Linked DNA regions of Homo sapiens: all the other regions are reported to be linked to region 1. The links are microRNA targets in miRTarBase. Many come from high-throughput screens and were not tested one by one. Region 1 holds a microRNA gene; each other region holds the end of a gene's coding sequence.

The links. Region 1 holds the annotated microRNA hsa-miR-641 (AAAGACAUAGGAUAGAGUCACCUC, at 1,869-1,892, opposite strand). A microRNA usually pairs through its seed, bases 2 to 8, with sites in the 3' UTR of a target mRNA and lowers its output. Matches are read on the target gene's strand: a 7mer-m8 pairs with bases 2 to 8, a 7mer-A1 pairs with bases 2 to 7 and ends in A, and an 8mer does both.
Region 2: the mRNA of MAPK10 is a reported target of hsa-miR-641. Seed matches in the 3' UTR shown: 8mer at 836-843 and 7mer-A1 at 1,729-1,735.
Region 3: miRTarBase lists PSD4 as a target of hsa-miR-641. The part of its 3' UTR that is shown has no 7-base or 8-base seed match.
Region 4: miRTarBase lists SETD7 as a target of hsa-miR-641. Seed matches in the 3' UTR shown: 7mer-m8 at 391-397 and 7mer-m8 at 196-202.

What each region holds. Positions count from the first base shown.
Region 1 is chr19:40,280,735-40,283,790 of GRCh38, forward strand. MIR641 (microRNA 641) reads right to left here and starts at 1,907; the gene lies at 1,809-1,907. The region is part of intron 1 of AKT2 (AKT serine/threonine kinase 2); the gene reads right to left. RefSeq lists an enhancer at 1-14.
Region 2 is chr4:86,014,370-86,017,425 of GRCh38, reverse strand. MAPK10 (mitogen-activated protein kinase 10) reads left to right here. Exons shown (of 14, transcript NM_138982.4): 14 at 56-3,056. The coding sequence ends at 198. Among named protein-coding and RNA genes, the nearest start is that of MAPK10-AS1, 100 kb to the left of the region's middle.
Region 3 is chr2:113,201,140-113,204,139 of GRCh38, reverse strand. It overlaps PSD4 (pleckstrin and Sec7 domain containing 4), which reads right to left. Exons shown (of 17, transcript NM_012455.3): 17 at 1-2,982. The coding sequence ends at 2,725. Among named protein-coding and RNA genes, the nearest start is that of PSD4, 29 kb to the right of the region's middle. RefSeq lists an enhancer at 206-255.
Region 4 is chr4:139,508,869-139,511,924 of GRCh38, forward strand. SETD7 (SET domain containing 7, histone lysine methyltransferase) reads right to left here. Exons shown (of 8, transcript NM_030648.4): 8 at 1-2,975. The coding sequence ends at 2,795. Among named protein-coding and RNA genes, the nearest start is that of SETD7, 46 kb to the right of the region's middle.

The DNA of each region.
Region 1 (3,056 bases):
ACCTGGAGGGCTGTTCCTTCTCCTCCCATCCCACATGACTGCCTCACCTTGCCAAACTGGGATCAGCTCAGAGGCCCTCCCCACAGCCGCATGCATCTAAAGAAGTGCCCAGTCTGTCACCTGATTTGAATTCGCTGCCTAGCTCCTCCCCCTCTAACCGGCTCCTTGCTTATTAACCTGTTTCGGGTTGGTCTTGCTTAGCCCCACAAGGATAGGGACTTTGGCAAGTACACTGCTGTATTCCCAGTACTGATGCAACGCTGGCACATACGAGGTGTTCAGTAAATGGTGGCGGATGAGTGAAACCTTTTCCTCGGCTCCACAATACCCTTAGGATCCATCCTCACCTCTCACCCAGGCCCACAGGCCAGTGCAGCACAGCCCCTGCCAACCCCTGCAGGCACTTCTGCTGCTCCCCCTGCCCAGGCCCAGCCTTCCTGCCACTCCCAGAGCTGTGAGCTGTGGTGGGCTGGGAACCAGGGGCAGTGGCATGCACCTACGGTCCCAGCTACTCAGGAGACTGAGGCAGGAGGATCACTTGAGCCCAGGAGTTCAAGACTAGCCTGAGCAACATAGCGAGACTCCCGTTTCCACAAAAAATTTAAAAATTAGCTAGGCATGGTGGCATGCACCTGTAGTCCCAGCTACTCAAGAGGATGAGGTGGAAGGATCACTAAAGCCTAGGAGGTCAAGCCTGCAGTGAGCTGTGATCACACCACTGCACTCCAGCCTGGGTGACAGAGGGAGGCCCTGTCTCAAAAGAAAAAAAAAAACAAGCACAGAGCCTGACCTCTGAAAAGACTCCAGTGTGTCTACCTTGGAGGCGCTCAGGGCTGCAAAGCCACTGCGTGGAAGAGGAGTGGGCCCGGGAGCTGCCCTTGTCAGTTCTGACTTGATTGCATGTCTCCCCCGACCTCTGTTTCTGCATCTGTAAAACTGAGATGCTAATTTCAGCCCTGATCTCCTCCTAGTGCTCTCTGACACGGTTCTGTGAACTGGCAAAGGCCTTCAAAGTCCCGGCAGAAATACTAAGAATTACAATTGCTAAGACAGACCAACAGCTCACCATGTGTCGGGCACTGTTCTTAGTGAGGAGACATTTCCGGTAGGCTTATTGTATGCCAGAACAGTTATGAATGCTTCCCACAAATTAATCCACTCAGCCTTCACAATAATCCTATCAGGTGGGAATTATCATCATCCCCATGGCACCGATGATGAAATGAGCTCACAAGGGTTGGGGAGCCTGCTCAAGGTCACACAGCCATGGAGTGGCACGGCTGGATTTGAACCCTGTGCTCTCACTCGCTTCCATACACCTCTTTACAGAGGCTGGAAACCAGAACATTGAAGTTCTGGATCCTAGCTGGGCCAGGCTGGGGAGCTGGATCCCGGAATGCTCGAGGGGACCAAAAGTAGGGGGTGGGGGAGGCTGGATGCCTCCGTTCCATAACATAATCATGACTGCCAACCAAGACTTACACAGTACCAGGCACCATTCTAGGAGCTTCTCGTGGATTAATTCATTTAATCCTCACAACAGCCCAAGGTGGACGTCCTTCTGAGACCACTGTATGGGAGTGAACAGTGTGGTCCAAGGTCGCAGAGCTAGAACCGACTTCACCGTCCTGCTGCTAGCTAACGCAGGTCCCTGGTAGCTGTGTCACCCCCTGCATGGCTCTCTTGCTGTCTTCTTCTCCCAGCACACACCTGCCCAGGGTTAAAGGATGCCTTGCCTCCACTCTGAGGAGGGACCAAGAAATGCTGGACTGGCTGTAGGCAGAGATGCTCAGGGCAGCCTGAGGCTCAGGGGTAAGAGGAAGGAAAGACATAGGACAGTCACCTCTATAGGTAGAGGACAGAGGACAGAGGTGACTCTATCCTATGTCTTTCCTTCCTTTCACCCAGCCTGGAACCTGGTGAGCAAGGAATGCATGGCACTAGGGGCTCAGTGACCTGGGTTCAAATCCTACCCTGGCACCCATAGGGTCTGATAAGATGCGGTGGAAGGCAATTCTTCCTCTGAACTTCAATTTCGGACTCTGCAAAAAAGGACACAAATACCATATAAAGCCCAAAGCACAGGGCTGGGCAGAGTATATGCTCACAGACAAAAGCCACTCCTCCAGTTTCTCCTTGACAAGACGATCTGAGGCCAAGGTTGGCCAAGGGCTCACATCACACCTCTCCCACTTCAGCTATGAGACCTCTGGGAAATCTTTGCACTTCACAGTGAGTGAAATGATTCCTCATCTGTAAAATGGTATCACACTTCTAACTAGCTCGTAGCTCTCCATAAAATAGGCCTAACCACAGGTATGTTTTGAGACTTAAGTGAGATCACATGTACAAAAGCCCTGTCACACGCCTGGCATGGGGTGAATGCTATAAACACTGGGCATCCACTAGCTCTGGAAATGATCTGCCTCTCTGAGATGCTGTTTTCTCATCTAAAAGGGAGAGCATAACAACAGCGCCTACCGCTCTAGAATTCAAGTATTCAGCAAGTTTATCTATATGAAGCATTCCAAACAGTGTGTGGCCCACAGAATGCACTCAGTTACTGTCAGCCATCAATTTCATGATTACTGTTTTCACTGCCACTGTTAGCCCCATCAGGCAAACCCTCTAAAAGCTGGCAGGAGAGGACCAGAGGAACAAACCCCTAGTGGAGAAAGATTCTACAGAGTCGCCGCTGCCTCACAGACTGTGGGACCTTTCTCTCCAGGAACCACGAGCCACGGAAGCCAGTCAGCTTGGAAGTCACTGCTGCGGACTAGGGGCAACCATCTGCCCCCTCTGACCACATCACCAGCCCAGGTCTGCTGGGTCAATCAGGGACTGCAGCCAGTCCTCTGGGAACTCCAGACCCAGAGCAAAGGCTACAGGGCAAGCCAAGGTCATGATCTGGCCTAGGGAGCAGGGACACTGGCCACAGACCTCTGGGGCTGGCTGCTCCCAGCACCAGCCCACAGACCACAATAAGACACCAGATCCATGGGGGATCTGACTGTCCCAAGCCCTTCAGAGCAGCCTTCCTCCCTGGGCCAGGCTGG
Region 2 (3,056 bases), not on the chromosome of region 1:
TAAGATGGGTCTGGTTCTAGATTGAGTCATGTTGGTCTTCATTTTCTTAGCACAGGTGCAGCAGTGAACAGCAGTGAGAGTCTCCCTCCATCCTCGTCTGTCAATGACATCTCCTCCATGTCCACCGACCAGACCCTGGCATCTGACACTGACAGCAGCCTGGAAGCCTCGGCAGGACCCCTGGGTTGTTGCAGGTGACTAGCCGCCTGCCTGCGAAACCCAGCGTTCTTCAGGAGATGATGTGATGGAACACACACACACGCAGACACACACACACACACAAATGCAGACACACAACATCAAGAAAACAGCAAGGGAGAGAATCCAAGCCTAAAATTAAATAAATCTTTCAGCCTGCTTCTTCCCCAGGGTTCTGTATTGCAGCTAAGCTCAAATGTATATTTAACTTCTAGTTGCTCTTGCTTTGGTCTTCTTCCAATGATGCTTACTACAGAAAGCAAATCAGACACAATTAGAGAAGCCTTTTCCATAAAGTGTAATTTTAATGGCTGCAAAACCGGCAACCTGTAACTGCCCTTTTAAATGGCATGACAAGGTGTGCAGTGGCCCCATCCAGCATGTGTGTGTCTCTATCTTGCATCTACCTGCTCCTTGGCCTAGTCAGATGGATGTAGATACAGATCCGCATGTGTCTGTATTCATACAGCACTACTTACTTAGAGATGCTACTGTCAGTGTCCTCAGGGCTCTACCAAGACATAATGCACTGGGGTACCACATGGTCCATTTCATGTGATCTATTACTCTGACATAAACCCATCTGTAATATATTGCCAGTATATAAGCTGTTTAGTTTGTTAATTGATTAAACTGTATGTCTTATAAGAAAACATGTAAAGGGGGAATATATGGGGGGAGTGAGCTCTCTCAGACCCTTGAAGATGTAGCTTCCAAATTTGAATGGATTAAATGGCACCTGTATACCAATTTGTAGAAAGAACATATGTGATACTTATGTAAAGTGTGGGGCGAGTGGGTAACAGTTTTCAGGCACAAAATGGTTTGGCCTTCTGAAGGCAGGTGTGAATAAAAGCTGAGAGTCTTTTCTGTGACAGTAAAGAGTAGGAGAGACTGGAGGGTAGTGTGTGGTGTGGACTAAGACTGAAAGGAGGTTATTACCCAGATACTAGGAGACACTGGTGTCCCTGTTTTAGAGATTTGGCTCTATACCCATTTGTCATTTCTCAATTACTGGTCACAACAAGAGGCCACTGGAGAAAGTGGCAGGTGGTGAAGCAAGGTTATTGTGTGTGCTTTTGATGATAAGAATCTCTCTCTGGAACTGAGCAGAATTGCCTCCATGTGAATTCCTTCAACAAAAAAATGAGCCTGCCTAGACTACTTTCAGATTGTGGATTGTGTTTTCCATGTGTGGGCTGCTTCCCTGATTCATACTCTGCCAAAGTTTTATTTTGAGAAATAATATTACTTTCCTCTTCTGAAATAAAATAATAATAATAATAATGAAACCCCCAAACCACAGTGTGAGTCTCAGGTTAGCATTTGAAAACATCTCCAGAGACATTGTTATTCCTCAGGAGTTTCCCTGACTCCTTAATGTGGCTGATGTTTCATGTTTATTTATTTATTTTAATAAGTATGAGCAATCGAAGGGCTGATCATCTGAGTTTTGTACTGCAGTAGATGTAAGAGCAATAACTCTGCCCATAAATTTACTGCTGCCAAATAGTTTTAGCAATATGAGTTTGTCTTAAAAGCCATGAAGCATTAATGTCAATGTTTAGCAAAATCTCCAGAATTTAGCTTAAATTAAATTAAATGAAAGTGCTTTCCTGAGCACTTAAGGAGGCACTGTGAAACATCTTGGTTATGTACAAGGCAATACCAAGGTGATCTCAGCAATAATCAGGCTTCCCTTCTTATTCACTTCGAAGTATCCATCACAGTTATTTGCACTCTGACCATGTTGGTGCTCACTAGAGTGGTGATATTTCACCTGAAGAAGTGAAAGACAGGAAGTGGATGGTTGATGAGTGTGAACTGATTGGCAAATAGAATATCCCCAAAACAGAGCAAACAAGAATGCCAGTGCTCTGAAAACTGCCTTAAATATAATAATAGGGAACTTTCTTTCTCTCTTCAAGCAATAGAGACCACAGGGAACTGCACCCACCTGCACCATCGCCATGCCAGTGGTGCTGCCATTCTGAGATTATTTCACACAGTCAGATTCAGTACACGCAGTCATTTGTTTAAAATAAATAGAAGAACATTCCTTTGTGCAGCTTGTCCCCTGGAATAAAAATGGCCCATTTTCTCTATTTTGCTACCATTTTTTTTCTGGTTAATATTGCAGATAACCTGATTGTTAAAAATGCCTCCTCAGTCACTTGAGCTCCCTCTCTTTCATATTCCTGTTTTTTTTTTTTTTTTTTAAAAACTTCTCCTCTCTGTATCTCTAATTCTTTACTGATTTTCTTTCTCGGTACTTTTCTCTTGATATATCTGTGGCTTCTCCCCTCCCTTACTTTATACCACATGGGATTAAGTGCGGAGAGCAGGAAGCTGCTTTAAAGAGAGTCTCAAGGGGAATTTCATCAGCCGCAAGATGACATCACAAGACAGAAGGAAGTCTCCAGCCAGCATCTTCAAAGTGCTTGACAGGCTATCTCTCGTACCTGCATAAGTGGTGAATTTCCCCCTCAGAGTAAACCAGGCAAGAACTAGACAGGGCCCCTCCCCCGCTGTTAGTACCTTCCCAAAGCTCAATTAGTCTTACATCTTCTGTGCATGGCTCTTGGGAGCTGGTTAGCTTTAGCCAGATTTCCCTTATGGACAAGAGAAAAATGGAACAAATTCCTTGAATATAAGTATCATTTACAAATAGAGGTAAGGATTTGGCCCCCAGAATTTTTGCAGGATCAGTTTTATTAGGTGATTAAAGCAAGGCAGATGATGGAACAACAAAGAGAATCACCACTGTAAAAGCCCCCCAGTCCTTTGCCCACTAGGTCTGCTTTCCTATAATATGTCTAGGAGGTGATGATATTATCAAATTCACAGAATATAATATG
Region 3 (3,000 bases), not on the chromosome of region 1:
CAGGACACCTGAGCAGCCAGAAGCTAGAAAGATGCAAGCCTGCCTCCAAGTGGTCACATGTCATAACTGCAGCCCACAACCCAGACCCTCCAGGCAGAGGTGCCTGGGCAGCATTGACTATGGCAGGCCAGGCAGCCACCATCATCTGGCTCTGAAGATTCCACGTGCTCAGGTGAAAGAGAGGTGCCGGTTCTACATGAGCAAAGGAGCATCAAAGTGTCACACACACATGCATTCAGACTTTCACCTTTTATCATGGTTTTAGAAATAAGGATGCATAGGCCAGGTGTGGTGGTTCACGCCTGTAATCCCAGCACTTTGGGGGGCCGAGGCAGGCAGACTACCTGAGGTCAGGAGTTCGAGACCAGCCTAGCCAACATGACGAAACCCCATCTCTACTAAAAATACAAAAAATAGCCGGGCGTGGTGGCACACGCCTGTAATCCTAGCTACTTGGGAGGCTGAGGCAGGAGAATCGCTTGATTCAGTGGAGGTTGCAGTCAGCCAAGATCACACCATTGCACTCCAGCCTGGGTTACAAGAGCGAAACTCCGTCTCCAAAAAAAAAAAAAAAAAAAAAAAAAAAAAAGGATGCATGTTCAGTGAGGTCAAATAACCTACTCCACTTAGTTTGTAAGCATCAGTCTTGGGCCAAAAGTCATGTCCACTTGATGCTGGGATTCCACTTCAATCAAATGAGGCAATTGGACTCTACTGCAGCTAACTGCTACTTACACATCAGAATTACCCAAGGAGCTTTAAACATATTTATCTATCCCTCTGACCCAGGCTGACTGAATCAGCATCCCTGGGTGTGGGCTGGGAATGTGTCTTTTCAGCACACTTCCCCAGCAAGATAAAAGTGCCTCTGTAAACTGAGAGCAGGAAACCAGTGGGCAAGATTGTCAACTCATGGAGTCAGGGACATGTTTAATTCATTTGTGAATCCCCTGGTACTGGCACATAGAAAGCGTCCCATATTATCTGCAAAATGAATGAATGAATAAATGAGCAAGTAGGTGAATGAATGATTCTGAGGTCTCCTCCAGCTTTGATGGCCTATGACCGTGTGACTCCTGCATATGCATGAACACACAGACACAGACACTACACACATGCACAGACACACATACACACTTGGAGCAAAGAGGGATGAAGCCTGCCACACTGCAGGTGGTCCTAGCTGCCTGACCTCCCTTCCTCACACACTGACACACCTCCCTCTTTGTTGACCTGTTATTTATTGTGCACCCATTGGGTGCATGGCCTAGCCCTAGGCCCTGGCCGGAGACCCAAACATGGCCTCCAAGGGCCAACCTTACTTTGTGGAGGTGCAAGCCCCAGAGCTGGTTACAAGCATGGGAAGGGAGGAGGGTGGCCTAGCAGGAAGGCTGGGGAGGCAGTGTGTCAGCCGGCAGGCAGCAGCGGGTAGCAGAGGCCCCCTCTTGGCGGGCAGCCTACTTGCACACTTGGCTGAACAGAGACAATGGTGGCTGGTCCCTCCGGCCCAGCCTCCTTCCTACAGGCAGAGCCCCAAGTCCATGAGTCTCCGGAACCTCCCTCAGAGAACAAGCCCAGCTGGGAGGCAGCCAGAGGGCAGGATGAGGGGATTTCCCAGGGGAGAGCAGCAGAGACCCTCTGAGCTGCCAGAGATGGGGAAGGGGTCCAGGCACCCCACAGGAAGGAAGGTTTAAGGCATGTGTAGAAAGGAGCACAGAAAAGTCTCCCGAGCCTGGCCTAGGCCTCGCCTGGTCGCCAGCCTCCGTCCCATCCCTCACAACTCTCCTGAGCTGTGGCTCCTGCCAGGCAGACCCCTAAGGGAAACTGTCGCCACCTTTTACCTCTCTATCCTCTCCAGTGGTCTGAACATAGAGAACCTCCTTCTCTGCTCTGTTGGAACAAAGGCTCCTTGTTCCTAGGGTTCCAGGGTTCCCTGCAAAGCTCTGGAGGCCCCACCCCGCCCAGCCCTCACTCATGCCATCAGCTCTGCTCTGTTGATGAGCAGTTGGGTATGTGAGACTGTTTCATCTACTTCGGGGGAAAGGAGACACAAGGAGACAAAGGCACAGGGCCCCACAGCCGTGCAGAGCCCTTGAAGCCCCCCGAGGTCCCTGCCCAGAAGGCTGTCCCCTCAGTGGGCAGGACCTTAGCGACCCTGCTCCCTGGGTCACAGGAGGCTGGTTAGGAATTTCTCAAGAGTCCCTGATTCACTCTCCTGGGGCCTCCCCAGGAAGGTCACCTAATTCCCAGAGCAAGACCATCCTTGGGGCTGTGGCTCCCCTGGCTGGGCTGCCCAGGGGCCTCTGCTGCCCCAAGCTCTCCCCCAGAAGCCAAGGGCACACCACATAAGCACTGGTTCTCAAACAAGTGCTGAGTTCTCAGCAAGTCTAGGAAATGAGGCCACTCTGGATTCTGGGGCCTGGAGGGTGACATGGGCTGAGCTCTGGGAGGAAAGTCAAGTCCTCACCTCCCTCTTCCCTTGGGCGTGGCCAGGGACTGGGGCTGCGGAGGGACTGCCATGGGGGTGGTGGGGAGCACAGCAATATTAGGAAAGCTTCAGGGAGCACAAGAATGAGGGCCACAGGGAAACAAGGTTTGTCCTTCAGCAGGGAAAGGAGGTGCCTCATCCGTCATGGTGGACTCATTGAAATAAGTCTCCTCCAGGGAGGTTCATCTCAGGTCTACCCTGGAGCAGGGAACAGTGTCTCTGAGGTGGTGCTGGCTTCACAGCTGATTGCGGTTCCGCTTAGGGATGATCTTCCGGTAGGTTCTGCGCTCTGAGATGTTGCGCTTCACCTTGGCCGTGGTGGGAGCCTCATCCTGGTGCAGGGACGGGCTCGAGTGGGACTTCTTCAGGCTGAGCTTGGGCTCCCGAGTGCCTCCAGCTTCCCTCCCCAGCTGCTCCTCCCACAGGTCCAGAGCATCAGAGGGGCAGTGCAGGCGGGCCACCAGCAGCTGCACGTAGGTCTCGTAGCGGGTTTTCTGCAACACACAGGCCCC
Region 4 (3,056 bases), not on the chromosome of region 1:
CCTCCACTCCCTTGACTTCTTTCCCTACCTACAGAACTCAGTGAATCTCAAGCCTTACTCCGATTCCAACCTGCCACAGAGCCTTACATTTGGGAGTATGTGTGTGTGTGAGGGGAGGGGTGGGGAAGACAGAGCCAGAGACATAAGCAAACAGAGAGGCACACACAGAGGAAAAGCCAGATGAGCAGAGTCCCAAAGACATGCACAGAGCCAGAGAGACTCAAGAAAGGTCAGTGCAGGGGACTTGGAACAGGGAACAGGAGAGGGCAGCTGGGGCTGCTGTTACCCAGGATGCCCAGGCGTTCTCACATATGCAGAGAGAAGAGGAAAGAGAGCCGGCCAGAGAAAGAAGAGCTGGAAGACACAGAGAGTATGAAGAGAGTTGGGAGGAAGACATGGTGAGGCTCAGCGTGGATGCATTGCTTCCTCTGATTTGCGTGGAGGTCACAGACACACTGCTGAGTTTTAAGCTCAGAGTGTTACCATTCAATATCTCATCTGAAGAACTGATTAGCAGACTAATCACTACTTACAACTCTTCAATTCCTTCTATCCAATGTTGAAAAAAATTCCATTTGAATGGGATAATTAGAGTAGCCCCCACTTAGGACGTAAATTGTACCCCACTGCAGCCAGGACCAGAATGCTATCACTCTCAGGAATGAAATCATTCAGAGCATAGCTGCATCGGGGGCATGACCAGCACTATCCTCTCCCTGACCGTATTCCCTGACCTGGCTGCACAACCCACTTGATCGAGGTTAATGCAAGCCATCTTTCTCCTGAAGACAGTCACTCCCTTTGGGCACATTTAAATTAAAGCACCTATCAGAATGCAAGTCCAGAGGCCCTGGCCCATCCGTCACAGTGTATAGAACGGTCTCTTTCTACAGAGTAAGAGTGACCCTATCCTGGTGCCTTTAAATCTAAAAACTATTCAGTTCCTTTGGTGGGCAATCTTCCTGGAAGCACTGACAACTTCCTCTCATGGGTGAACCATTGGCTTAAGCTTTCAAGCAGGGATCCAACTGGATCTCCCTGAAACCACTGCCACCTAGCTGCAAAGCATGCAACCGGGTGCTCTAGGAAGCCTGGTGTTGCAAAGAAGGGAAGGGCAACTCTGTCAATGTGCCCAAGGGCCACCTGAAATGAAAGTCATGAGCAGCCTGGGATTAAGCACTTTTGTTGTAGTCTTCATAAAGCAATGTGCAACTGACAAGAAATAGCAAACTTCCTTCTGCCTATGTCCTCACTCTTCTTCCACTGAAGCCTTCTCTCATCAGCTGGAGCTCACTATCTGCTACAGCTTGGAAGGCCTTCGCTTTCCAGACCAAACTGACTCAGGTGACAGGAATCACAGCTGACAGCTACAGATCAGCACAACAGCTGCTCTCCAGTCCTTCCAGCCGCTGCATCGAGGTGTCTAAAAGAGACAAAGCTATGGCATGTGGTGAGGGTGCTTATAAAAAACAAAACTCTCAGGATTCATTCAGAGCAATCCCAGTGATGTTACAGATCTAATTAGCTAAACTAAAAAAACAGGGGTTTTCTCCTTATTTCTGCAGTTGTGATTACACATGGCTGGCAAAATGGCTGAAATGCTATTGATAGTGTTGCTTTTAAACTATACAGGTGTTCAGTCTTAGTTTACAATGTTTTGAAGCAGGTAAGTGCTTTGAAATTACAATGATGAAGAGTTTTAGCATCAAGGTTTGATTTGTACCTAGTAATCAGTGTGTCTGCCTTAGTAGTACTGACTAAAAAAATTTTTTTTTGAATTCTGTTAGAATTCAAATTTGCTGTTTGACTTTTGAATTCAATGCACTGTGCCACAAGCCTGACCGCGCTATGTTATGTACATTTAATGTGTACTCAAGGAGGAAAAAATTACTAGCACTACTGAAAATATTGCAAAATTGCCATAGTTACCGCTTAGAGATACTAGTTTTCTTCTCTTCTTTCTTAAAGTATATATTACAACTCTTCCATAACTTAATGCAAACAAAGTAAATTCATTTCTTCTCACATCTTAAAGCAAAGATATCTTTGTTTACATGCGAGAATAATATTCTATAATAATACCCTGGCCCTATGAGCCAGTACTTTATATTAGGACATAATAATAAAATGATGATATAGAAAGAACCAGAGAGACCTACACACTGCTATTGATGCAAAAATCCATTTGGAAGTTTTCTCTTGTAAAGGGTATCTAAGAAAGAGAATAGGGCTGAGGGGTGAAATGACTTTAGAAGTGGGCTCCTATTTACTAAGAAAAAAACCAAAGCCATTCTATTGCAAGATACAGATCAAAGGTTAAAAGGCAAATTATACTACATTTAGAGAATAAAGATGTAGTAATTGTCAACCCTTAATACGGCACATATGCAAGTGTGCTAACACAATTTGCACTGGCCATAGGAAAAAAGCACTATGGAAAAACCACTGACTAAAAATGACTGAAAAACCCCGTTTCCCTGTTTCAGTCTAATCATTTGGCATCTCCGAATGTGGTACAGATTTAGACTTGAACCACCAAAGAACATCACGCTGTCTTATGTCAAATGCTCGACAATACCTCTCAGTAGGACGTTGTTGCAAGGCTAGCTAATTTTAAATCTGGTATGAGTAATACAGTCAAACCTAGTTAGTATGCGAGAAAGTCGTTGCTAACGCATGGTGAGAGGATGTGACGTCACAGCATGAGCAGTCCCTGGTTGTCCCATTGTCAGATAAACGTAGTGCATAGATCCAAGTTTCTATTCCAGGTCTCTGAACCCCAAAGCCAGGCCTTTCACTTTTGCTGGGTGGCCTGGAAGGCCTTCAGCTCCACCTGGTACCACTCAGGGGCTTCAGGCCCACTCTTCCCGGGGGGGCTGTGGTCATAGCCATAGGCAACGGTGAGCTCTTCATCGGCCTCCACTGCTCTCAGGGTGCGGATGCATTTGATGGGCCCAAAACGGGGGTGGACAAACCTAAACATCAAGATGCACACAGTCATTCCCGGGCCAGACCAGGAGGTTGGAAGCAAAGGCTAGGGAGGGGCTGATACAGGA